7 linked regions of the Homo sapiens genome follow. The protein of the gene in region 6 interacts with the protein of the main gene of each other region in a pairwise test. Each region holds a gene or a part of one and is shown on either strand. Other genes may lie near its edges. The genes, in order: SEPTIN7, ANKRD24, SPTBN2, PARVB, ST18, PCNT and SRGAP2.

The links.
Region 1: the proteins of PCNT (region 6) and SEPTIN7 interact in a two-hybrid assay, tested with the Homo sapiens proteins (one large-scale study listed by BioGRID and IntAct).
Region 2: the proteins of PCNT (region 6) and ANKRD24 interact in a two-hybrid assay, tested with the Homo sapiens proteins (one large-scale study listed by BioGRID and IntAct).
Region 3: the proteins of PCNT (region 6) and SPTBN2 interact in a two-hybrid assay, tested with the Homo sapiens proteins (one large-scale study listed by BioGRID and IntAct).
Region 4: the proteins of PCNT (region 6) and PARVB interact in a two-hybrid assay, tested with the Homo sapiens proteins (one large-scale study listed by BioGRID and IntAct).
Region 5: the proteins of PCNT (region 6) and ST18 interact in a two-hybrid assay, tested with the Homo sapiens proteins (one large-scale study listed by BioGRID and IntAct).
Region 7: the proteins of PCNT (region 6) and SRGAP2 interact in a two-hybrid assay, tested with the Homo sapiens proteins (one large-scale study listed by BioGRID and IntAct).

Annotation. Positions count from the first base shown.
Region 1 is NC_000007.14:35,881,057-35,884,556, reverse strand, and holds part of SEPTIN7 (septin-7), read right to left. Parts: intron 2,074-3,500; coding exon 1,981-2,073; intron 667-1,980; coding exon 570-666; intron 1-569.
Region 2 is NC_000019.10:4,210,189-4,213,688, reverse strand, and holds part of ANKRD24 (ankyrin repeat domain-containing protein 24), read right to left. Parts: intron 3,425-3,500; coding exon 3,317-3,424; intron 3,194-3,316; coding exon of another isoform or gene 2,999-3,193; intron 2,625-2,998; exon of another isoform or gene 2,439-2,624; coding exon of another isoform or gene 2,415-2,438; intron 1,215-2,414; coding exon 1,176-1,214; intron 1,090-1,175; coding exon 991-1,089; intron 1-990. UniProt on the Homo sapiens protein: Component of the stereocilia rootlet in hair cells of inner ear.
Region 3 is NC_000011.10:66,719,217-66,722,716, forward strand, and holds part of SPTBN2 (spectrin beta chain, non-erythrocytic 2), read right to left. Parts: exon of another isoform or gene 2,225-3,500; 5' UTR 2,134-2,224; intron 2,047-2,133; 5' UTR 2,025-2,046; coding exon 1,868-2,024; intron 1-1,867. UniProt on the Homo sapiens protein: Probably plays an important role in neuronal membrane skeleton.
Region 4 is NC_000022.11:44,023,050-44,027,101, reverse strand, and holds the start of PARVB (beta-parvin), read right to left. Parts: upstream 2,801-4,052; 5' UTR 2,763-2,800; coding exon 2,651-2,762; intron 799-2,650; exon of another isoform or gene 726-798; intron 1-725. UniProt on the Homo sapiens protein: Adapter protein that plays a role in integrin signaling via ILK and in activation of the GTPases CDC42 and RAC1 by guanine exchange factors, such as ARHGEF6. Is involved in the reorganization of the actin cytoskeleton and formation of lamellipodia.
Region 5 is NC_000008.11:52,116,257-52,119,756, reverse strand, and holds part of ST18 (suppression of tumorigenicity 18 protein), read left to right. Parts: intron 1-1,315; coding exon 1,316-1,419; intron 1,420-3,338; coding exon 3,339-3,482; intron 3,483-3,500. UniProt on the Homo sapiens protein: Repressor that binds to DNA sequences containing a bipartite element consisting of a direct repeat of the sequence 5'-AAAGTTT-3' separated by 2-9 nucleotides. Represses basal transcription activity from target promoters.
Region 6 is NC_000021.9:46,439,156-46,442,655, forward strand, and holds part of PCNT (pericentrin), read left to right. Parts: intron 1-927; coding exon 928-1,047; intron 1,048-1,699; coding exon 1,700-1,929; intron 1,930-3,341; coding exon 3,342-3,418; intron 3,419-3,500. UniProt on the Homo sapiens protein: Integral component of the filamentous matrix of the centrosome involved in the initial establishment of organized microtubule arrays in both mitosis and meiosis. Plays a role, together with DISC1, in the microtubule network formation.
Region 7 is NC_000001.11:206,392,041-206,395,540, forward strand, and holds part of SRGAP2 (SLIT-ROBO Rho GTPase-activating protein 2), read left to right. Parts: intron 1-648; coding exon 649-864; intron 865-1,504; coding exon 1,505-1,633; intron 1,634-3,500. UniProt on the Homo sapiens protein: Postsynaptic RAC1 GTPase activating protein (GAP) that plays a key role in neuronal morphogenesis and migration mainly during development of the cerebral cortex. Regulates excitatory and inhibitory synapse maturation and density in cortical pyramidal neurons.

The sequences.
Region 1 (3,500 bases), on a different chromosome or scaffold from region 6:
GGAGCAAACTTTGGGCCCCAGGTAAAGAACCCCTCAATTTTAGTTATGTTTTCAAATATGAAAACAGAAATAGACTTAATGATGAGGCAGGATGCCAGCCAGGGTGGGGCAAGTTGAGTATCTCTTATTTGAAATGCTTGGGACCAGAAGTGTTTTGAATTTTTTTGGAATTTTGGAATATCTGTGCTATACTTACTGGTCGAGCATCCTTAATCCAAAAATCCAAAATTCAGAATGCTCCAGTGAGCGCTTCCTTTGAGCAGCATGTCAGTGCTCAAAACGTTTTATTTTGGAGCAATTCACATTTTGAATTTTCTCTTTAAGAATGTTCAACCTATACTACAACTTTAGGACTTAACACACACTTGCCTGACTTGGTAGGATACAGGTTTGAAAAATACCAATGTACTTAAAGAGAAAATTGAGACTACAAGAACCTGAAATCAGTATTATCCTTGAAAATCTAGACTATATCAATACAGTGTGCATACTGTACTACTTACTATAAATACAAATTTTTAATCAGTTTTGAGATATTTTAGAAAGTCATTCACTGAAGAAAATCTTACCTTCAGCAACACCCCAAGGATACTGCCTTCCTCTGACCCTTTTGCCATTAACTTCAATGATAGTATTACTACCTACCACAGCAAGAGGTAAACGGTCCTATAAAACAAAGTATTCTTGTTCAAATACATCTCTGTAGTCCTCACAAATTCAAAAATAAAAAAAGTTACATTACTCAACAGGTTAGCCAAAAAAAAAAAAAATTTACTTTCGATAGTTTCTGCATTAGTTTTTATAGGCCATTTAACAAATATTTAGTAAACTGCCATCACATGGTATTGCCACCAAGGTAAACAATAAATAAAATTAAATTTTCTCTTTAATGTTAAGAATATTCAAGCATATACTGGTCAAATTATTTACTAAAAATCACTACAGAAAGTTGTCCCATACCTGGGGGGGGATAAAAGGTAAAAACTATATTGGCATTTGGGGGAAAAAAAGCGGGGGGCTAATGACTAGCTTGCCTACTTGATCACAAACCAACTATAACAGTACCTAAACCAGGTAATAGTATATTTGTTAAGCTCTAACTTTGGAAATTCAAATCCTGGTGACTGGATTTGTGTTCATCCATGTTCAGCCCTTCACAATTCTGTGGCTCCCAGAAATACCTAAGCAGCTATTTACAACTGCAGAAATTCTTCACAGGCAATGTATAAGAATTTCATTATTCCAAGATATTTGCCTACATAATGCCATTATTCAGTATACCATTTTTAGGGCCAAAGTACATAGAAAACCATGATAAAATACAGAAAATATGTTGATGTGAATTTTTGGTTGGTTTTTATTGTTTTTAATTGAAACATAATTGTACACATTTGTGGGGTACAGTATGGTATTCTGATAACTTTATACAAATATGTAATGATTGAATTAGGGTAATTAGCATATTTATCAATTCAAACTTATTTTTCTGTATTGGGAACATTCATAATCCTCTTCTAGCTATCTGAAAATATAGACTAAATTACTGTTAACTACAGCCACCCTACAATGCTACAGAACGCTAGAACTTACTCCTCCTATCTAGCTGTAATTTTGGTTGGCTTTTATAGAGACAAAATAAATACATTTTTGTCTGGCAATTAAAACATAACAGAACGAATTCTCTCCTTTCTCATCACTTGTTTTTTAAGAGAAAAAAATTACATAATATGAAAGCCAGTTAATTAAAAACACTTTGAAATAAGAATTGTGTTATTCACCTCAGTAGTTTATACAATTCCTTATTATATATACTAGCTAATCTTCAAAGTTAACTATAAAGTTGAATTCAACATTAAATCTCCCTAGGTATTTTGTAAGCCAACTACTTAAAACACTGATACTTTTGATCTTTCCTGTGGACGCTGTAGTATGTTTTTAAGGCCTCAGATTACTTTAGCGTGTGTACAGGGATGAACCTACCTTTATCTTTTTAACAAGTTTATTTTCTTCTTCATCATCTGTTTCTGGAAATTCGTATATTTTAATTTTATGTTCTTGGATTTCTTTCATTATCTAAAATGGAAGAAGTAGTCAGCAAAAGAGCACCATACATAATTAGTATATTAGTCTTATGTTCATTACATGCCTCTTCGATTCCTATATGGGTCCTTGGTTCCAGATCCTTTACTGTTTTTTAATGATGCAAAGTTGTAATCTAAAATTAAAGTACTACGCTAGTCTTTTTTTTTTTTTTAACTATGAAGTTGATATATAAACACCAAATCCAATTACTTCCGAAGTGTTAAAGTCATATAGCTGTCATACCAAAAGAGTTCCAAAAAGGATGTAAAACTCCAGAAAGGGATTTCTCTGATTGATTTCCACAATAATGACTTTAGGTCATTTATTTACAATGACTGAGATTCTTCCTTTAGATATAAATTCCCAAGTATCTTATTTAGTTGAATAAACAGGGCTAAACTCACGTAAAATTTTTAGTAGAATCTGGCAAAAGTAAGGTAAAACTAAGTACAGCACTGCTCCCTGAACATTCATCAGAAAAATCCTTACATGTACATGTGCATACACACAAATTGAGGAGCAACAGGTGTAAGATTAGGGAAGGACACAGGGAGAAAACACATCCTAGAAATTAAGAAGCTCAAGAATTAATAAGGAGAATGCAGAAACCTAGAGAAGACAACTTATTATTAACATCAGAAATGACCTAGTTCAAATTAAATTATCATGTTCAAAATCACTCCAATTCTAAACAGAATACAGACATCCAAATAATTTTCAACTACCTATCCTTATTTGAACCCATAACAAACCAATGGCTAATATACCTAAACCTAGCTTCCCTGTCTATACTTATATTTTGGTGCAACTTTCTTGGCAAAGGTTCCCAGCAGCTATAAAAGGACCCTGAACAAATTGTGTTACATGGTTACTATAGTAGACAGAAGTAAACAGAAGTAAAATTGTCACTGAAAAAAAATAGGACCACACTTCTTTTACAATTAGGGTACGTACCTATATTTAAAAAAAAAAAAAGAATAAACAAGGAATTGACAAATACATGATGACGAGAAAAATGAGTAATAGTAGCTAGCTCTAAAAGCAATGGTTTTAGTCAGAGGTTGTATATTAAAATGACCTGAGTACAACCACCAGGATGTGACCAATTTGAAAGAAGAGGTCACTTCATATTCATCTTTTTTACCTTTATCAGTAAAAATCCAAATCGAAACACATAATAAACAAAAAGAAATGTATTATATGATAGTGTTTGAAACTTAGAAATAGCACATTACAAAACAAAAATGGGAATGGGTAAGTGTAAAACACAAAAATACTAGATACAGTAAAAACAATGTACTAAAACTTTCTGAAAATTAGTATGAATTTAGCACAACTTCAAAGCAAATTTTAACAGGCTTTTTATAACAGGTTTCAAGGTATTCTGAAATTCATATTGAAAAAGGTGAAAAACAAAG
Region 2 (3,500 bases), on a different chromosome or scaffold from region 6:
ACTGCACTCCAGCCTGGGCAACAAGAGTGAAACTCCATCCTCCCCACTCCCCAAAAAATACAAAAATTAGCTGGACATGGTGACGTGCAGCTGTAGACCCAGCTACTTGGAAGGCTGAGGCAGGAGAATCGCTTGAACCAGGGAGGCAGAGGTTGCCGTGAACCGAGATCACACCATTGCATCCCAGCCTGGGTGACAGAGCGAGACTCTGTCCAAAAAAAAAAAAAAAAAAGAAGGAAGGATAGAAGGAAAGAGAGAAGAAAGGAAGGAAAAGGAAAGGAAAGGAAGAAAGAAGGAAGGGAAGGAAGAAGGAAAGGAAGAAAGAAGGGAAGGAAAACGAAGGAAGGAAGGAAAGGAAGGAAGGGAAGGAGGGAGGGAGGGAAGGAAGGAAAGAAAGGAAGGAAGGAGGGAAGGAAGGAAGGAAAGGAAAGAAGGAAAGGAAGGAAGGAGGGAGGGAAGGAAGGAAGGAGAAGGGGAAGAAAGGAAGGTCCTTTCTGTGTCTGTGCACATTTGTAAATGTGCATGGGTGCATGTGACTGTGGGACTGTTTGTTTGTTTGAGACTGAGTCTCGCTCTGTCACCCAGGCTGGAGTGCAGTGGTGCGACCTCAGCTCACTGCAGACTACGCCTCCCGGGTTCAAGTGATTCTCCTGCCTCAGCCTTAAGAGTAGCTGGGACTACAGGCGCGCACCACCACACTCAGCTAATTTTTGTATTTGTAGTAGAGACGGGGTTTCACCATGTTGGCCAGGACAGTCTCGATCTCCTGACCTCGTGATCCGCCCGCCTCGGCCTCCCAAAGTGCTGGGATGACAGGCGTAAGCCCTCGCACCCAGCCAAGACTGTGGGTTTGTGGGTGCATGTGTCTGGTGCGTGTGTTTGCACGTGTGTGAGGCTGTGCATGCACTGGTGTGACTGTCTTGTCGCTGCTGTAGGAGAGAAGTTCCCCGACCCAGCCCCAGCCCAGCCCTGACTCATCACTGCTCCTACCTCCAGCAGGGACAGCCGGCTCTGCAAACTCTCCACCTCCCGTCCCAGGCTCTCCTTCTCCTCTTGTCTCTCCACCAGCAACTGCTGTAGCTCTTGCACCTGGGAGCAGCAGTGGAGGCTCAGCTGCCTCTGGGAGGAAAGGCTGGGCAGCAGGAGGACCGGCTCCTCCCCACCTTCCCACCTACCTGTCTCTCCAGGATGTGCAGGGAGCTGGCCTCCGGGGACTGACGGGAGAAACAGGGACAGGGGTTTGGATCTGGGCAAGAGGCCTCCCTGCCCCACCTCCTGCTTCATAGCCTCCATTCCATGCACATTCACGCATTCCACGTGCAACTATTCAGCACCTACTGAATTCTGCCCGCTCACTCATTACTATTGAGTGCCTGCTGTGTACCAGGCACCATTCTGCCTGCTCACTCATTACTAAATATTTATTGAGCACCTGCTGTATGTTGAGCCTCATTCATTCCTATTTATTTATTTATTTATCTTTTTTTTTGAGATGGAATCTCACTCTGTCCCCCAGGCTGGAGTGCAGTGGTGTGATCTCGGCTCACTGCAAGCTGCGTCTCTTGGGCTCACGCCATCCTCCTGCCTCAGCCTCCTAAGTAGCTGGGACTACAGGCGCCCGCCAACAGGCCCGGCTAATTTTTTGTATTTTTAGTAGAGACGGGGTTTCACGGTGTTAGCCAGGATGGTCTCGATCTGCTGACCTCGTGATCCGCCTGTCTCAGCCTCCCAAAATGCTGGGATTACAGGCATGAGCCACCGCGCCCGGCCTCATTCCTATTTATTAGGTGCCTACTTTGTGCCAGCTATTGTTCTGACCTGTCACTCAGTATTTATTGAGCACCTACTGTGTGCCAGCATGCACCATTCTGACCAGTCATTCATTTCTAAGTATTTATTAAGTGCCTGCTGTGTGTGCCAGTATGCACCATTCTGGACAATTACTATGTACTTATTAAGCACCTGCTGTATGCCAGGCACCGTTCCATCCACTCATTCACTCAACAAGATTGTTTTTGTTTGTTGTTGTTGTGGTTGTTGTTGTTGAGATGGAGTCTTGCTCTGTCACCCAGGCTGGAGTGCAGTGGTGTGATCTTGGCTCACTGCAACCTCTGCCTCCCGGGTTCAAGCAATTCTCCTGCCTCAGCCTCCCAAGTAGCTGGAATTACAGGCCCCTGCCACCATGCCCAGCTAATTTTTTTTTTGTATTTTTAGTAGAGACAGGGTTTCACTATGTTGGCCAGGCTGGTCTCGAACTCCTGACCTCAAGTGATCTGCCCACCTCAACCTCCCAAAGTGCTGGGATTACAGGTGTGAGCCACCGTGCCCAGCCAGAAAGTTTTTACTGGGTGCCTCTTATGGGGCAGACCTGGTTTTGGCCATTCATTCATACACTCACTTGAATATTCACTCACCCAATCAATATTGACGACGCCCATACTGTGACCCAGGCACCATCAGCCATGCCTGCCCTCGCAGGCTCACAGTCAAATGGGTGGACACACATAAAACAGATGCATGCCCAATAGCAGCAAGTGATGCAAATGGAGATAAAGAGGCCGGGTGCGGTGGCTCACACCTGCAATCCCAGCACTTTAGGAGGCCGCGGCGGGAGGATCACCTGAGGTCAGGAGTTAGAGACCAGCCTGGCCAATGTGCTGAAACCCCGTCTCTACTAAAAATACAAAACTAGCTGGATGTGGTGGTGGGCGCCTGTAATCCCAGCTGCTTGGGAGACTGAGGCAGGAGAATCGCTTGAACCCGGGAGGCGGAGGTGGCAATAAGCCGAGATCGTACCATTGCATTCTAGCCTGGGCAACAAGAGCGAGACTCCGTCTCAAAAACAAAACAAAACCAAAAATAAATAAAAAAAAAATAAAGTGAACTAGCGAGTTGGCCGGGGGGGTGGTGGGGGGTGATGTTACAATTTTGAAGAAAGTGGGCATGGGAAGTGGGCATGGGAAGTGGGCATGGGAAGTGTCTTTGGCGAGGAGCCTACTGCATAAAGTAGGTGAGGTAAAGAGCTGTGGGGCCATCTGGGGCTAGAGCATTCCAGGCAGAGGACACAGGTGGTGCAAAGGCCCTGAGGCAGGACTGCGCTAGAGCATTCCAGGCAGAGGACACTGGTGGTGCAAAGGCCCTGAGGCAGGACTGCGCCTGGCGAGTTGGAGGAACAGCGAGGAGGCCCAGGTGGCTGCAGCAGGGTGGGGAGGGAGAGAGATGGAGGAGGGAAGGTGGGAGAAAAGTAGGGGGATCTTCATGCCTGCATTGACCCCACCCAGGCTGGCCCACGCCCAAATCTCCGAGGCCTCCTAACCTCCTGCTGCCTCCGTTCCTTGTGCTGTTCCAGGCCCCGGATCTTCTGCAGGAGGCGGCCCCTCTCCTGCCGCAGCCTCACGATCTCCTCATAGGCATCTCGATCATCCTGTTCCCCTCCCCACCACGGCCTTTAGATGGGGCCTAAGGTTGCCCCATCCCAGGTCTCAGCCAGAGCCCCTCCC
Region 3 (3,500 bases), on a different chromosome or scaffold from region 6:
TGTGAAACGAGGGCTGTTACCATCCTTTCCACTTGCTTATCACCACCTCCAGTGCCAGCCCCTTCCCTGCCCTCTGGCCCACCAGGGCCATCCTCCACCAGGCCATCCCTGCCCCCAGACGCCCCGCTGCTGGGCACATATACCAGGCGCCCTTCCTCTGGGCTTCAGCGTTTGTCATGTGCAGCCTACACTTGCCCTTCCTCATCTTCATTCATTCAGTGTTTATTTGACACCTACTGGCTGGAGACACAGTGCTAGGCAAATCCCATGCAGAGCTGCCTCTTCAGGAGAGCCCAGTTCAGTGGTGGAGATAAACACCCAATGAGAGCACGAGGTCACACAGATGTGTGCACAGACATGGTGACAGTGCTGGGTGGCCCAAGTTATGTGCAGCCAGACATGGTGACAGTCCTGGGTGGCATGTGTCCTATGTACACAGGCATGGTGAGAGTCCTGGGAGGCATGTGTCCTATGTACACAGGCATGGTGACAGTCCTGGATGGCATTTGTCATGTGTGCAAACATGGTGGGTGGCACATGTTGTACACACATAGACATCATGACAGTTCTAGAGGCTACATGAATCCAAAACCAGAGTGCCAGGAACATTTTCCCCAAACATGACATTCTCCATAACCCACACCTTCTGTCTTCTCTGATGTATAGACACACTGGTAGGAGTGTTTCACAGCCGGCCTGAAGACCCAACCAGAAGGACAGAGAGGCCCAGGAGAAAATGAGAAGGGGTCCTGGGAAGCTATGGCTGCCACAAGGGGGTCCTCAGACTGGTGCTGAGCTGGCTCAAAAGAATCACTTGGGGAGCTTTTGAAAAATCCTGAGTTCTGGACCAAGATTCTAACTTATTGTGTCTAGGGAGGGGCTTGGAAACCTGTATTTGTAAAAAACATCCCTGGGTGATCCTGTAAAACATGTGGCCAGGTTTGGGAACCTCCCCCTTGGAGTCTCTCTTCTTCTAGTGGCCAACCCCCACCCCCACTCGGAGCACCACCTCTCGGTGAGAGTAGCTGGGACCCCTCAGACTGGGTTGGGTTGGGCTGGGCTGGGCAGCCAGCAGGTCAATGGCAATGACAAGAGTGGGATGGAGGAGGAAGCCAGACGGGGTAGGTGGCCTTGGGGTGTGTGGGTGAGTCAGCCCCATGCCAGCCACTGGTGGTGTCAGGTGGCAGCCGCACTCTTGTTGCCATGACAACTCCTCCCCCGGAAGACAGGGAGGCCGTTGGACGAGTTTCCGCTCAGAGCGGAGAGCCCAGGCCCTGGGCTGCAGGGAAGAGTAGGAGCCAAGGCAGGCAGAGAGCACACCAGGGAGAATGGGCGGCTGCAGAAACCAGCAGCAGCGGGTGGAGGGAACCTGCTTCAGGGAACAGGCAGATGAGATAATGGGAGTAACAGGTGGCAGGTGGAAGGAACAGGTGGAGAGGGAGCAGAGGGGAATAATAGACTGGGAACAGGTGTGGGAAATGACAGTGGAAATCAAAGAAGACACAACAAGGGCATGACAGGTAAGGGAGAGGTAGGCGGAGAAAGGAGTGGCAAGAGCGAGAGTGCCGAAGGATGAAGGGACATGACCCGGGGGCTGAGGCCAGAGAGGGAAGCTGTTTTAGTCAGCTCAGCCAGTCCAGGGGCCAGTGAAGCGTCTCTATGCTTGGGGGGAAGAGCTGGGGAAAGTTCTGAATGGCCTGGAGCCTATTCTTGAGGCTGGATGTGGGGACCAGGGAATTGATAGAGTGCTCTGGGTCTCCCACTTAGAAAGAAAAGTCAGTCTTCCCATAAAGTTAAAGGGCTCTTCATGACGAGCTGACAAAGCCTCCTCCAGCATCCCCCCACCTCGACCCTCCTCTGACCTCACCTGCCAGAGCCTTAATGCGAGACCTCTCAAAGAGGCGGGCCGAGCTGCTGTCATTGTCCCAGTCCGAGTCAGGAAGGTCCCAGCGGTTGTTGATGTCACTGTACTGGCCCTGGATTTCCAAGCTGTCAAAGTCTGTGGGTGACAGCGTGCTGCTCATGGTGGTAGGCGGCTTCCTGCTCCTGCAAGGAGAATGTGGCCAGTGAGGGGTGTCCAGGGACCACCAAGCCCTCCACTCACCACCGGGGCCTTCTGTCTTCTTGCCCTACCTGTGCTCCGCTCTCCTTGTGGCCAGAGGCTGCGGTTGGCTGCTCAGTGGAAATCAGCCCCCAGGGGAAGAGGGGAAGCCACCTGGGAAGCCTGGGGACGGGAATACATCAGAAGCACAGAAAGTGAAGCAGGAAGGCAGCAGCAGCTCAGAGCAATGCGGTGGTCAGGAAAGGCTCCAACGACTTCGGGCCAGAGAGGGACGGGTTTGCGGGGTGAAGAAAGGGGTGATGGGCTTCAGTGCTTCAGACAGCAGTGTGCAGCCCAGGGTAATGCAGGCAGCACATATGGGGCCCCACAGGCAATAATGACTAGAAAGTGGCATTCTTTCCTTCTACAAACTGTTTTGAGCCCATGATCAACCCAAGATGGCCTACTATACCCTGTAGGCAAGTTGAGAGAAAAAGACCCAGATTTGTTGGGCGCGGTGGCTCACGCCTGTAATCACAGCACTTTGGGAGGCCGAGGTGGGTGGATCACCTGAGGTCAGAAGTTCAAGACCAGCCTGACCAACATGGTGAAACCCTATCTCTACTAAAAATACAAAAAATTAGCTGGGCGTAGTGGCAGGCGCCTGTAATCCCAGCTACTCAGGAGGCTGAAGCAGGATTATTGCTTGAACCTGGGCGCACCTTAGAGCGAGACTAGTAGAAAAAAAAAAAGACCTAGATTCTGCTCTTGAGTTAAGAAAAAGTTATGATACGCCAGGAAGACTGACACACTGTTTAGCAAGTGCCCAGGAGTTCAAAGGAGGACACAGTATGCTTCTCTCCGCTTTGTTTCCTTTGGTTTGCCACAGAGAATGTTAGTAAGTACTCAATAAATGTCGGCTGTGACATATCCCTGCCATTGACATGCATCACGTCACCATAACTCCCTGTGGGGTGAGGGCCCACTGTTGTCCCCATTTCATAGATGAGGAAGCTGCACAAAAGATATTAAGTTGGCTGGGCGCGGTGTCTCACGCCTGTAATCCCAGCACTTTGGGAGGCCAAGGCGGGCGGATCACAAGGTCAGGAGATCGAGACCATCCCTGGCTAACACGGTGAAACCCCGTCTCTACTAAAAAATACAAAAAATTAGCTGGGTGTGGTGGTGGGTGCCTGTAGTCCCAGCTACTCGGGAGGCTGAGGCAGGAGAATGGCGTGAACCCAGGAGGCGGAGCTTGCAGTGAGCCGAGATCTCGCCATTGCACTCCAGCCTGGGCGGCAGAATGAGACTCTGTCTCAAAAAAAAAAAAAAAAAAAAAAAAGACATTAAGTTGGCTGGGGGCATTGGCTCACACCTGTAATCCCAGCACTTTTAGGAGGCCAAGGCGGGTGGCTCACCTGAGGTCAGGAGTTTGAGACCAGCCTGGCCAACATGGTAA
Region 4 (4,052 bases), on a different chromosome or scaffold from region 6:
CAGTTCCCTTTTCTGACCCAGGCCACCACGTGACACGCCTCCCGTAGCACATCAGCCTTAATCACGCCCACCGTGAAGCTCATTCTCAGACACTTCCTGCACTGCTTCCTCCAAACCCCAGGGCCCCACATTTCCTAACCCCTCTCCTCTGGAACAGGCCACGTCACTCATCCCAACCATCCCTCCCAAAAGTCCCTCCGTGCCTTGTCACACCCCTGCCTGAATCTGGAACCTCACCGATGAGCCCGCCCCTTCCCCCAGCTTCCCCCTCCTCCCTTAGAGTCCTCAACTCAGGAACATGTCGGAGCCACATCCGTTCTCCCAAATCCACCCTCAACTTTCTAACAAAGGAGGAAATGAAGCCGACGGTGCAGCAGGCAGGGTCGTGGAAACCTCCCAAGCGCCCTGTCACTCCCTGGTAGGCAACCGAGCATAGCTCTGACGGCCCAAAGTCAGGGCCAGGGGCTGCTCCACCCTGGAGTGGCAGAAGCGCATGTTGCCAAGGCAAATGGGCTTGCGGAAATACCAGCGACTCTCAATTATTCAAGCCCTCATTATCCAGTCTTCCTGACTCTTCCACTTCCCAGGAGACCACACAGAAGCCGCTAAACCCTTCCCAATCCAGCCTGTCCCTCAATTCCTGTGCCTAGATCCAAGGAGGGTTTGTGGCCCTCTGTTTGCCAGGCACCCCAACCCTGAGAACCGAGGCAGGGCGCCCAGCTCACCCCCAGCGAAAGCAGCATCAGCAGTGCCCGGCGTCCTGCTCCTCCTCCTGCCTCCACGCCCGTTCTATTCAGCACAGGATGCTTCCTGCTACCGGAATTCTTGGTGCATTTGAATTAAACCAGGCTGGGCCTGAATTTTCTAGACACACATCAATTCATACAGGCAAGGAGGAGAAGCACTGCGTACTTTGGAATTTGGGCCCAGTCCATTACTTTGGGTGTGTGTTCTTCCTATTCCGAGAGCGTAAACGGCACCTAGAAAAAGCTGCAATAGCCCAGAACATTCCGGTTCCTTGCCATTCTATGAAAGACTTTTTCCTCTGGTTCCTTCTGGCCTCCACTCAAGTGTCCCCTCCTCAGAGGCCTCCCCTGGCTCTGATCGCCCTGTTCTATGTGCTCCGGGGCACGTCATCACAGCGCCAGTTGTCTATGTATTCATTCCCCGTTCCACGAAAGCAAGCACCCCGCCCCCGCTCTTTTCTTCCTGGGGTCTAAGCAGCACCTGGCCCATGGCGGGCGCTCCACAGGCTGTGGGCTGAATTGGGAGGGGAGCGTCACTTGCGTCTATAATCGTTGCAAGCCATAAAGAGGAACCGAAATGATTTCTGGTGAGGGTGCTGATGACTGCATGGAAGAACAGTGGGGATGATAGAAGGGTGACAGCCACTAATCATGTCATTTAGGAGACGTGACCAACACCGACCAATACAAGCTACAGTGGGTCCTCCAGTGTAAGGCTTGAGAGAAGAGTGACCTATCCGCCAGGAGACCTACTGAAGGGGACAAGACCCTGCCCTCTTGGAACAGGATCACGGGTGGGAAGACACGCATCCCTGGGGGCACAGGCATCCCTGGGAGAAAATGTCTGGGGAACCAAGCGTTCCCTGCACTGTACAAAAATCCTGGGGAGCAGGTGCATGGGGGCACACACATGCCTAGAGGCAAATCTGTCATATGTCTTCCCGGGGCACACACATCCCTAGGAATACAAGAGTCCCAGGGAAGAAATGAATGGGGGACCTGCATCCCGGGGTACACTAATCCCTGGAGGCACAGGAAGAGTTCCCAGGGGATATGTCAGGCCCAGGTGGTTTAAGGAAACCGTACTGCATACCCGCTATGGGAGGGCTCCTTCCCGGGGACCCACCTGAGGCCGGCCTTTCTCCATCTGCCTTTCCACAGCAGCTCCCCTCACCTCTCACCAATCCGAAATCTCACTATAGGGCATGGTCCCGGGGCAGAACCTCCCCACCCAAGCAGAAAATTCCAGAATGTATCTCCCAGGAGGCCCTGGGCAAGCGGTACACTTAAAGACACCAGACTATCCCTTGCAACTCTAACAATCTTTAAAACGTACGAGGTTGGTAGTGTTTCGTGAGCACACGCAGTAAAAAATTTAAAAAAAAAAATTTTTAATGGGATCTCTGCAATTCTTGCTCGCAGGCCTCCCAGGCCTCAGCCCTGCACGCCCTGAGCCCCGCACCCTGCAGGGCGCCCGCGCAACACCCAGTAGTGGGTCCCCCAGGCCGTGTCTGCCCAGAGTGCCCTGCACACGTGAGCGTCACTGCTCATGGAATGAACGGTCACCCCGCGCGGCTGGCTATGCCGCTGGCCCAGGGAAGAGCTGAACACCCGGCAGGCAGAGCAGGCGCGGGCCCCGCACGGTGGCCCGAGGTCCCCGCCGCGCAGGCGCCCGCACGCGCGTTTGGCAGACTCCGGAGGCCACCGCGGCCCCACGCGCCAGGTCCCGGCCGTTGTTTACGGGTCCTGGGTCAAAGGCCTGGCCTGTCCCGAAGGTCGCGCAGCCGCGTGGGCCGGGCGGGGTGCGTGGGGGAGGGCGGGGGCGGCCTCGTGGGGCTCTAGGGCCGAGGGCGGGCACCGCCGGGCAGGTCCCCGGGGGTCGGCGGGCGCGGGCGCGCACTCACCCTCGCGCGCCCTCCGCTTCCTGGCCAGGGTGCCGCCCAGCTTGCCCAGGAACGACTCGTCCTTCTTCATCCTGCGGGGCCGCGGGGTGGGCGAGCGCGGCGCGGAGGACATGGGCCGCGCGTGGGGCCGGCGGCGGGCGCAGCGCGTGTGGAGCCGCCCGGTCGCCCCGGGGAGAGGCCGAGGGCGCGGCCCCGCCGCCGGCCCCCGCCCCGGTCCCGCCCCCGCCCCTGGCCTGGAGCGCGGCCCCGGCGTCCCGGATGCCCGAGGCCTGCTGGTCCCGGCCAGAGCCGTCCCCGTCCCGCGCCGCCGCTCAAGCTCAGAGAAGGGGCGTGGGGCCACCCCGGGAGCGGCGCAGCCTTTTCCCTACGCGTTGGAGCCCTGGGCTCTGCTCGGCTCCGCTAGTGGTGCCGGATCCAGGCGACAGCGCGACAGACACCATTGCCACGTGGGTGCAGCCTCAGGACGTCCTGAAAGCCGGAGAGAATCAGGTCACACGAACGTGGCCGGTCTGTTGTTAAGCTTCTGCCAAGAGCCAGGCCCGGGGCAGGGGGAGCCCTTCAGAACTGGGAATTGTCCCTACCCACGGGAAGCTTAGAGGATGGAGGGCAATGCGGGGCACAGGTCATTGGCCTGACCTCCAAGGGGAGTTCCAGGAGTTGTTTCTGGAAGAGGCGACGGGGAGGCCCCAGGAAATGGCTTGCAGGCCGGTACCATGAGGTGAGCAGAAGAGCAGGCCCTGGGGACAGTGTGGGGTGCCAGGGAGGGGAGAGGAGGGGAGACAGGCCTCGCATGTGTTGGAAGCAGAGGAAACGGCTTCATCCCGAGGACTGCCAGACAGGGCTATTTTTATTTTATTTTATTTTATTTTATTTTATTTTATTTTATTTTATTTTATTTTATTTTATTTTATTTTGTTTTGTTTTATTTTATTTTATTTTTTTAGACGTAGTCTTGCTTTGTTGCCCAGGCTGGAGTGCAGTGGCACAATCTCGGCTCACTGCAACCTCCACCTCCTGAGTTAAAGCGATTCTCCTGTCTCAGCCTCCTGAGTAGCTGGGATTACAGGTGCACGCCACCACGACCGGGTAATTTTTGTATTTTTAGTAGAGATGCGGTTTTGCCATGTTGGCCAGGCTGGTCTCGAACCCCTGACCTCAGGTGATCCGCCTGCCTCGGCCTCCCAAAGTGCTGGGATTATAGGTGTGAGCCACCATGCCCAGCCTAGATACCCAGGCAGGGCTTTGAGCTGTGATGTCACAGATGTTGCCTCTGGCTGATGGCTGCTCAGCAGGTGCTGGAGACAGAGAAGGCACAGGCAGGCGGACGGTGACTTAGGAGAAAAGCAAACAGATTTCTGAGATGCTCACAGCCAGAAGCCCCAGCCTTGAAGAAGTAGGAGGA
Region 5 (3,500 bases), on a different chromosome or scaffold from region 6:
ACTTTTTTTCTCTTCGCACTAAATTACTAAGAATCTCCCGTGTTGTTTTTGGTGGGCATGTGGTTTCCTTTCAAGTTGTGCTTTTGGCGAGCAACACTGCTGTGTACACCTTATGCATGCTTCCTGTGTGCAACCATTTGTTTTGGGTGTGTACCTAAGGAAGAAATTGTAGGGTCATAGAGAATGTGAGCATCCACCTTCAGGAGGTAATGGATTATTTCCCAAAGTAGTCACCCTAGGAAAGTATAAGAGCCCAGATCTCTTTCAAACCAATTGTCAAGCCAAGTACCCTTTATCCTTCTCTCATGAAATTGCTCCTATGAAGTCTCTACGTGGAAGTTCACATGTCCTTCTTCATTGTCACCCTGGTTCAGATTCATTCTTCTAGGAGGTAAATTACCTCCAATCCTGCTTCCCGCACCCTTAATATTAACTACCTTCCCCAGGTCCTTGAAACCTTTCAAATGTAGTCATACTCCTTCTACAAAGTAATCATGGGAAATAACCCCCATTCACTGAGAGCCTGTGGCATGTTTAGCGCTCTACATTTTATTGCATTCATTCTCACAGTGTAGATAACATGCCTATTTTACAGAAGAGGATACTGAAGCACAAAGAAGATAAGTAAGTTGCCCAAGTTGCAGAACAGGAGTCAAACTCCCAAGCTGATGTCCTTCCCCCTAAATTACATTTTCCTCATCCATGTCCACGTGGAAGACTATGCCAATGTGTTTCTGGACACTAATTCACCTGCCAGCAGCCCCGCAGCTCTGCCTCCCATCATGGGTCCTAAGGTCTAATTCAACTAAACAGATATTTAATTACTCAGCATAAAACTGTCCTTGGAGCATTTTGAATAAGAGAATGCAAGGGCTTTGAGGTTTAATCCCAGCTCTGCCTCTTAATTTGAACTTGGGCAGGTTATTTAACTTCTGTCAGTGATTCTTGGGGTCTCATTTAACCTCTCTGGGCTCGGTGTCTTCATATGTGAGGAGGGTATAATGGAGCGTGTCCCACTGTAGGGTGTGGTAAGATGTAATTGAAGGCATATTTACAAATGGGTCTGGCAGCACCCCTGGGACATAACTGAGCTACATGCAAGGGTGGCACTTTTCTACTCCCTCTTTTCTTTCTTACCAATAAATTAAATCTGTAACTTCTCTTATCCACTTTTTCAGAATCCTAGATATGCATTGTTTTGGTAAAAACACTAAATGAAAGTCTCATTTTCAAGTAGCAAATCACAAATTAAACATATAATGACTCATTTGTTAACAGTTTTCAGTTTGAACTAAGGTAGTCTTACTCTTTACAGGAATAGAGAGTGATGAAGAAATTAGGCATTTGGATGAAGAAATAAAGGAACTGAATGAATCCAACCTTAAAATTGAAGCAGATATGATGAAACTTCAGACCCAGGTAAAAAAAAGAAGTAATTCATGATCCTTAATGTAATCATAATCTTTGGTGGAAACAAAACATTGAAATTTTAAAACTTGTGTGAAAATATATGGTAACTTAGAGTCAATATGCTGAGTGTTTCTAGATTCCATAATTATTGTAAAATTCTGAATAGGTGGATCATCCCAGGTTACCATTTATTCAGTAGCTCTGGGCAAGCTTTCTCATGTTTTTGCCCTGGTGGCATCGAAGTTTTTATAAGCAAACAAGGCAGATCATCCTATAACCCAAGAGTCTCTGGTGCATTAGAAAAAAAATGTGATGGAAAGGTAAGAATCCTTGGTTTTATTCAAAATTCAAGTAAAATATAGCAACTTTTTGTTTAATGTTTTTGGAACACCTCTGAATGTGTAAGTATTTATTAGAAACAGATCTTACTGAATATTTTCTTGAGCAAATTCTTTACCTAAAAGCCCAAGCAATTTCTCAATTCTGCATTCTTCTTTGTGATGTCTGCCTCATCTCCTGGAAATCAACAGTTCAGTCCAAGATTTTTAAAACATGAATCATAACTCTCTTGCAACAAGTTAGCAGCAAAAGAATGAGACAGAGCATACGACTGTCTTTCTCCCCTTCCCTTCTCTCCTCTTCTGAAATGCAGGATTTTTATGCCACCATGGTTACTGGATCTCTTGGAAGTCCTCACACAACAGCTTAAGACAAAGGGTTTTAATCCATCTGAAATTTAGGTTTCCTTACCCAGAGTGACCATTGTTGCCATCATCAATTTAATGGCCATCTGGTCCACAGATTGATACTTTTGTCTAGAAATCATGGGAATTCCTCTAGAAAACCATTAGCAAAGAACACAAAGCCCTCTGCCCTCCTGAGACTTATAGTCTAGAAGGAGGAAGCAGACAATAAACAAAAAAGTCATAAATGATCAATGGTGTTGTATGCTAGAATGGCAGGGGGCTGGGCGAGTGGCTGTATTTCAATACTAAATAGGACCACCAGCCCCCAGGAAGAAGAAAGCCATCCACAAAGACTTGAGGAATGAGGGAGTTAGCCAAACAAGTATGGAGAAAGAGTGTTTCAGACAGAAGAAACCCTGCAAGCGCAAAAGTGCTCATCATGAGAAGGCCTGGGGATTTCAGAAATAGCAAAGGGAAGTGTGGCCGCAGGTGAGTGAGCTGGGTGGGGCAGGTCACAGGAGAACAGTCTCAGAGACAACAAGGCAGCTCACACGGGGCATCTTAGGCCATTTTAAAGACCTTGGTTTTTATTCTGAATGTGTGCAGAACTGTAGCACAGTTTTGAGCTAACGAGTAACATAATCCCATCTGATTGACATGCTGACTTGCATTTTAACAGGCTCATCTTGGTGGCTGTGTTGAGGAAAGGCCAAAAAGAGATTAGATGGGGTAATGGCAAACACAAGGCCACCCACGAGAAGGTAGCACAGTCACACTGGTGGCTGGGCCCAGGGGGCAGCAGAGTGGAGGGGACAGTGGTCCCATCCTGGATATTTTGAAGGAGGAGCCAGTGGAGGTGAGGTATGAAAGAAAGAGCCATGGGGGGTCTGCACTACAGTTGAGTTGCTGCTGACTGGAAAAGGGAGACAGCGGATGGAGCAAGTTTGGGGAAAATAGCAAAGTTTACTTTAAACATGTTGAGTTTGAGATATCCATCATACAGCCATGTGGAGAAGTTCTACAATTCATGAGGAAGTCTGGGCTGAAGATGAAAATTTGGGGATTTGATTCCAGCACTTCAAACAATCCAGTGGGGCTGCAGCTTCATGCTGAGAAGTTACACGCATGCATCTCTGCATCTCTTAGTATTCAGATGCACTTGGTGCATTTTCCTTCAGGGAGAAACCTTTTACACTCCTTCCAAACTCCACTACTCACATTCCCAAGTTATTTCTGTTGTAGATCACATCTATGGAGAGCAACTTAAAGACGATAGAGGAGGAGAACAAACTCATAGAACAGAACAATGAAAGTCTGCTGAAAGAGCTGGCAGGTCTAAGCCAAGCTCTCATTTCAAGCCTTGCTGACATCCAGCTTCCACAGATGGTAAGTTCAAGGCCAGAA
Region 6 (3,500 bases):
GTTCACACACACACACATCCCTGTAACCTTCATAAGTAACCACCATTCACAGAGCACACAGCGATGGCCCCCCCAAAAAGAGCAGCAGGCATCTCCGCCTGCCACAGGCCCTGGCTCTCTCCCAGAAAGGTGTGTCAGTGGAACCAGCCCGTCTGGGACCTCCTAAACTGGCTTTTTTCACTTTTTGGGTTTTTTTTCTGAGACAGGGCCTTGCTGCATCTCCCAGGCTGGAGTGCAGTGGAGCAGTCACAGCTCACTTCAGCCTTGACCTCCCAGGTTCAGGGATCCTCCTGCCTCAGCCTCCTGACCTGCAGTGGTGTCAGCAGCAACCTGTGCACGTCCTCCCGTACACTCTTAAGTCATCTCTAAGATCACTTGCAGCACCTCATTCAGTGTAAATGCCACGTAAATAGTTGTCATCCTGTATTGTTTAGGGTGTAGGGGCAAGAAAAGAAGCACACGTTTGGTACAGACACATCGTTTTTTCTGAATATTTTTCACCCACAGTTGGTTGAATCCATGGATGTGGAACCCACAGCTGTCGAGAGTTGACTGTGCTTGTAGTTACCAGTGGTTGGCATTTCTAGGACCGGAGAATATGAGAGTGTTTAAGGCTTAAAGCTTTGAATTTGGGGTGATTTTACAAAGAATTGGTTTTCTGTTTCTGTTAAAATGTACCTTTTTTGCAATCATACTTCAGCAAGTGGCATGTCGTAATTACTCCATGTTAATTCTTTGGCTGATCACAGCACGGCGTAACCTAGGCCCTGCTGAGGGGGTGCTGAAGTTGAGGAGGGGCCAGGTGTGGTGTGGTCAGCCTGGCCTCCCCGCACATGGCCTTCTCCCTCACCTGCCCCCGGCTGCGTCTCTAAGATGCTCTTGTTGACGAGCAGCTCTGTAGACAGCGCTGGCTGTGCTTCCTTACAGAGGTCGGAAAGGTCTGCTTGGAAGCCAGACGAAACGGCTCCACAGAGTTCCCTGAGGCGCCCAGACCCCGGCCGGCTTCCACCAGCTGCCAGCGAGGAAGCACACACCAGCAATGTCAAGGTAGGAACGGTGCCACGAGTATAGAACTTTGGTGCTTTTTTAAGTCCTGGGTTTGCAAATTGCAGGCAAAGCATTTTTGTGACCACAAGGTTCTCGTCTGCCGGGTGTAGCAGTCACATCACTAAAGGAAAGGACGTTCACAGAATAAACTTCGGCTTGAATTTTGTTTTAATTGTGCACAAATACTGAGTTTCTGTGCTTGTTAAGCGTGGAACGTGGAAGGCTTTGACAAAGTCAGCAAATGGCGGCCTCTGCAGCCTGAGGGAGGCCTGGCCCAGGGGCTTGCCGGGATTCGGCCCAAGATCTGCTGCAGTCTCCTGATGGCACACGGTCCCCACCCCGTGACGTCCATCTCATGCCCAGTTTGGACCTTACCTAAGGGGTGAAATGCAAGAAGCTTCATAGGGGCTCATTTGATGATGCTGTGGAGAGGAGCTTGTGGTCCTAGATCTTGTCTGACAAACACAAATTGATCTTCCAACAGCAAGGTTGTTTCTGGCCACAGATACTGTTGGAAGGCCGATGGCTCTGTGATGATTTGATGGGAAAAAACAATCTGACTCTTTGGAAAGAGCAATGGTGTTAATGTGCTTTTGTCAGCAAGACAGTCTTTGTTTCCTATGATAAAATTTTACTGCTTTTTTTCTTTTAGATGGAAAAATTGTACCTGCATTACTTGAGAGCAGAGAGCTTTAGAAAAGCTCTGATTTATCAAAAGAAGTATCTTTTGCTGTTGATTGGTGGATTCCAGGATTCTGAACAAGAAACACTCTCCATGATTGCCCATTTGGGGGTATTTCCTTCCAAAGCAGAACGGAAAATCACATCTCGTCCTTTCACCAGGTTCCGCACGGCCGTCAGGGTGGTCATTGCAATATTAAGGTAAATGCCATGACGTTCAGTCAGTGCGTTCCGCGTCTGTCTCCGTGAGTGGGCAGCACACTGCATGGTTTTTTGGTCATTTTATTCCTTGAAACTCCATAATATGTTCTTTTTAAAGATGAATGGCATTTGAGGCCTTAGAGAAAATACAGATGATGAACTTGTCTTCAAGAAGTCATGTGTATGAATCTCTCACCTTCTAAAACTAAAGATTTAAGGGCACCTTTGTATTACAGAGGAACATCTTGACTTTTAATGGGTTTCGTGCCACAAAGAACGTGCTGAATTTCTAAAACTGTTTTTCCCCCTAAACACTGTGCGGCTGTGCCTGCTCCCTGATGCCACAGAGGTGTTTCCCAAGGCCACGCGCGGGCCTGTCTGGAGTAGCAGATGCAGCAGAGAGCAGCTAGGAATCCCGCTCCTTTCAGAGACCAGGTGCCGAGCCAGTTCAGTCATCGCGGCTGCAGGCTGGGCCAAAGTGGGGTGCAGGCGAGGCCTCCTGGGTTGCTGTACTCTCAGCTTCTCTGGTCCTGGGGCACTTTGTCTCCTCGTCTCTGAGCTCCCCTGACCGTAGGCCTCCACCGTCCATCCTTCCACCCACCCATCTGTCCATCCTGTGTTCATGGGGAGAACACCCTGCAGGAGGAAGCATTTTAGGCACTAGATAGGGGAGGTAAGCAGACCCAGATCCTACCTCCTGTCGAGGAGGGGAGATCTTTTGAAGGCAGTGGTGTCCCAGAAAGGAGCAGTCTCTGTGTCCCTGTGAGGGCACTGCCTAGGGTAGCTGCCACCAAGGGGCCTTGACAGGTCTTATGGAGGAATCGGCAGTGTCTGCTATGCCTCAAAGGAGGGAAGCCACAGGCATGATGCTTGTTCCGAAGGCCATCCTAGCAGGGCGTCTGGGGCCCTGCACACTGACCTGCATGCCCTCGTCACCTGCACTCTGCATGCTCACCATCTGACGGACTCCTGCGAGGGCTGGGGTCTCCGTGTTCTGAGCCTGTCCAGTGGCATCTGTGACAGGATGAAGATGGGAGGGTCCTGCACACCAGGCGGGAGCGGCATGTGTTTCCTAGTCACTGGTGTGGCCGGCTGACTTTGAACTGGAGTCGTCCTGAGCTGGGCCATGGTGGGTGTCTAGGGGACCATATGGTCCACGGTGGGGCCGCAGTGAGGCTTTGTCAGGTGGTTGGGCATGGGAAGGTCGCCGCCGCCGGCAGCCCTGCGAGCACTTTGGATGTGTGCACCCGGCATGCCAGGCCCGAGTCAACAGACTGGCCGACCTTGGCGTCCTGGTCCCCATGGGCAGCGAGGCCCCCATTCTGCTTGTTTGGTCACAGTGGGGTTTTCATTGCTCTTTCCCTTCCTGTCTTGCCGTACTTTTAAGTGTGTCTTGTCTCTTTTTTTTGTAGATTACGTTTTTTGGTTAAGAAATGGCAAGAAGTAGATCGGAAAGGAGCTCTGGCACAAGGCAAAGCCCCTCGCCCAGGTGGGACTCCAGCTGCTGTTGACCGCTGGACTCACAAACCTTTCTTTCTACTCTTGTTTTTCATTCACTTTGGGTCATTTTT
Region 7 (3,500 bases), on a different chromosome or scaffold from region 6:
TGAGAAAATGTGTTGTGTGGTACTTGGCATAAAGCCAGGAATATACTAAGTGCTCAGTAAATGATAACTGGCATTGCAGTTGCTGTGAGAGGGTGTTTGATCTGGATAAAGCAGAACAGACAGATCCCCAGAATGCCAGGCCGGTAAAAGGAGCTTTTGGAAGCTTTTCCTCTTCCCTATTTTATATCTGAAAGGTAACAGAAAGCATAGGCTACTCCATAGGCTGCACTGCCCTCTTCGGGGTTCCTGACCAGCCCAGAAAGGCTTTGCCCTTGGGGCCTGAGAGTGGTGGTGTTGTTTCCCATCTACTCAGTATTATGAGGTGACTAAGTGATAGAAATCACCTGGCCAATATTAAAGAGAAATGATTACAAATGATAATGAATAGAAATAAATAATACATGATGGATAGACATTAAGTTATTTCAATAAGAGGAAATGTTGGCTCAGTTCACATATTGCTTTCCTGTGCTTTGGAGTGGTCTTTAATCTGTGTTTGCTGAACCAAACACTTCTGGATTTTTCCCTTAGGGGTGTGAGGATATTGCTTCATGGGGGAGAGCTCCAGCTGAGTCTGTTAGTCTGTAAAGCAGAGAAATGACCCCCTTGGCTTGACCTCTGGGGGTGGGGGTGGGCGATGTCTTGCAGGTGATGAAGACATATCACATGTACAATGCCGACAGCATCAGTGCTCAGAGCAAACTAAAGGAGGCGGAGAAGCAGGAGGAGAAGCAAATTGGTAAATCGGTAAAGCAGGAGGACCGGCAGACCCCACGCTCCCCTGACTCCACGGCCAACGTTCGCATTGAGGAGAAACATGTCCGGAGGAGCTCAGTGAAGAAGATTGAGAAGATGAAGGAGAAGGTATGTAGGCTCCCACAGCTGTAGATGCTGGGAAGCAACATTCGGTAAGGCATGGCTGATAGGAATTTCCCAGTAGTCACTGGGAAGAGCAGACGAGGAAGCTCTGGGTTCTTTTAGTGCCTAATGACTGAAAATGAGGCCTTGCTCTGTGCCCTGGCAGGAATACTAGGTATTGGAAGAACTGGGCACGTGGGATCCAAGTTTCTAGCCTCTAGCAGAAAACCAAGAAACAGCAGTCACCTTTCCCAATCCATTTTCCAAATAGAGCTCAATATCCTATTGCTTTGGAGGGGTTGGGGGTGACTGTAAACCCAGGATTTGGTTTCAGGTATCAGGTGTTCAGGGGCAAGAGTAGTGGTACCTCCTTCAGAGTGGCATTGCAAGAATGAAGAATGATATTTGAAGATAGAATCAAAGTGGGGCACGCATCTTAAGTAGGGAGCCTCATTAACCTTTCCTGAATTGATCTACATTGTGCCCTTGAATCTCATTAAACAGAATTAGAACCCAATTTAAGGCAGATGCGCATAGGGAGTAGCAACACAATTGTAGTTCTTGAATACACTGTACTTTTATCTTTTAGAGAACAAGCCCCCCTTAAAAAAAAAAAGGTAAAAGTGAACTTCTGTTTCCTTTTCAGCGTCAAGCCAAGTACACGGAGAATAAGCTGAAGGCCATCAAAGCCCGGAATGAGTACTTGCTGGCTTTGGAGGCAACCAATGCATCTGTCTTCAAGTACTACATCCATGACCTATCTGACCTTATTGATGTAAGTGCTTAAAGCCAAGGGCCTGAGGGCACCTCTTTTCTGGTTTCAGAATACTCGTCAGACATTCCCCGATACTATTGTTCAGGAATCTGGTGCATTTTGAGAACAATTAGGAAGATAGCAGCCATGATCCATCAGGGTGCTTGCCAAGCACCAAGTGAAACACTTCACACTTATTCAATCCTAACTGGAATTCTGGGAGGAAGGCATTATTATCTATATTTTTACAGATTAACAGAGAGTTTAGATGACTTAGTCAGAGTCAGTTAACAAATGACAGAGGCAAAATTTGCACCTAGGCCTGATGACTCAACCCAGGCTCATAACCACTACACTCGTCTATCTGCCAGGAAATACTTTCTTCCTTTTTTTTTTTTTTTTTTTTTTTTTTGAGATAGAGTCTTGCTCTGTCCCCCAGGCTGGAGTGCAGTGGTGCAATCTTGGCTCACTGCAACCTCCATCTCCCAGGTTCAAGCAATTGTCCTACCTCAGCCTCCCCAGTAACTGGGACTACAGGCATGCATCACCATGCCCAGCTAATTTTTGTATTTTTAGTAGAGATGGGGTTTCACCATGTTAGTGAAGCTGATCTGGAACTCCTCACCTCAGGTGACCTGACCTCAGGTGATCCACCTGCCTCGACTTCCCAAAGTGCTAGGATTACAGGTGTGGGCCCTGCACCCGACCTAGGAAATACTTTATTACATCAGCTTCTCTTGCACAGAAGTGAGTGGCAAGAACTTAACTAAAGAGTTACAATGCCATCCCTTATATTTGTATAGCATTTAAGGTTTCTCAGTGTTAACTCATTTGACTCTCACATCACCATTATGGGTAAGCATTGCTGTCTCCAGTTGCTAGATAAGGAAGCTCAAGGTCCAGAGGACTACGAGACTCACTTGTCCAAGGTTATGCTGCAAATTAGGGTCCTGTCAGGAAGGTATCCAGCTCCCCCTGACATCTGGCCCATTTTTTAAAATATGTGATGCAAAGGGGATTGAGGAAAGCGGCTAATAGGCACATGTGTTTTGCAAGGGGCAAGCGCAGGGATAAGCTTTTTGTTTTTTGCCTGTGAGTTATTCTTGGCCTTGTTTTTCCTGCTGCTTCCCCTTACAGTTGGGTCTTACAAGCCCTCTCACCTACAGACTCCAATCTGGCCCAGGTCCTGAGCCACACCTAAGTGAAGCTATGTAATTACACCCTTTCTCACCTCTCCTTCCAGTCATCAAAGTGAGGCATCTGGAGCCAGCCAATTTAGCATCCCAGTCTCTGGGGCTTCAAGTGTATCTCATCTCGGAGGCCTGCCATTTGTTTCAGGGTCTTGTTGGCAGCAGTTGGGCTTTGCAAAACTCTGGCCCGACCACTCTTGCTTTCCTGCCTTGGTTTCTCCACAAGCAAACCTGCCACACCTCACAACATCATATGGGATTTGGGTCCGAGTCTTGCTGTTATATCACCACCTGGGTCATCTAGGCTTGTCACTGAATTGTTCTGAAACCCAGCTTTGTTTCTCACCCACTCCCAAGCTCCTCTAGCTAACTGAAGAACTGGACTAATTCCCTGGTATTAAAATCTGGCCTCACGTAAGAGTTGCTTGGGGAACTTCTCTAAAATACAGATTCCTGTCTCCCTTTAGCCGAGGATTTTTGATTCAGTAGATTTCAGCCACTTAATGCCCTAGGTGTCATTGTCTCACTGGGTTAGTAGAGCCTTGCTCCCTGTTCTGGTACCTCTTTGTTCTCTCTGCTTATTGATGACAATCTGAACACTGTCCTTCAATGGAGGTCAGAGCCCTAAACAAGATCCTTTCTCCTCCTCAGGGGAAGAGCTCCTCATTGTTGGGAGAGAGGCCTGTTCTCAGCATAAG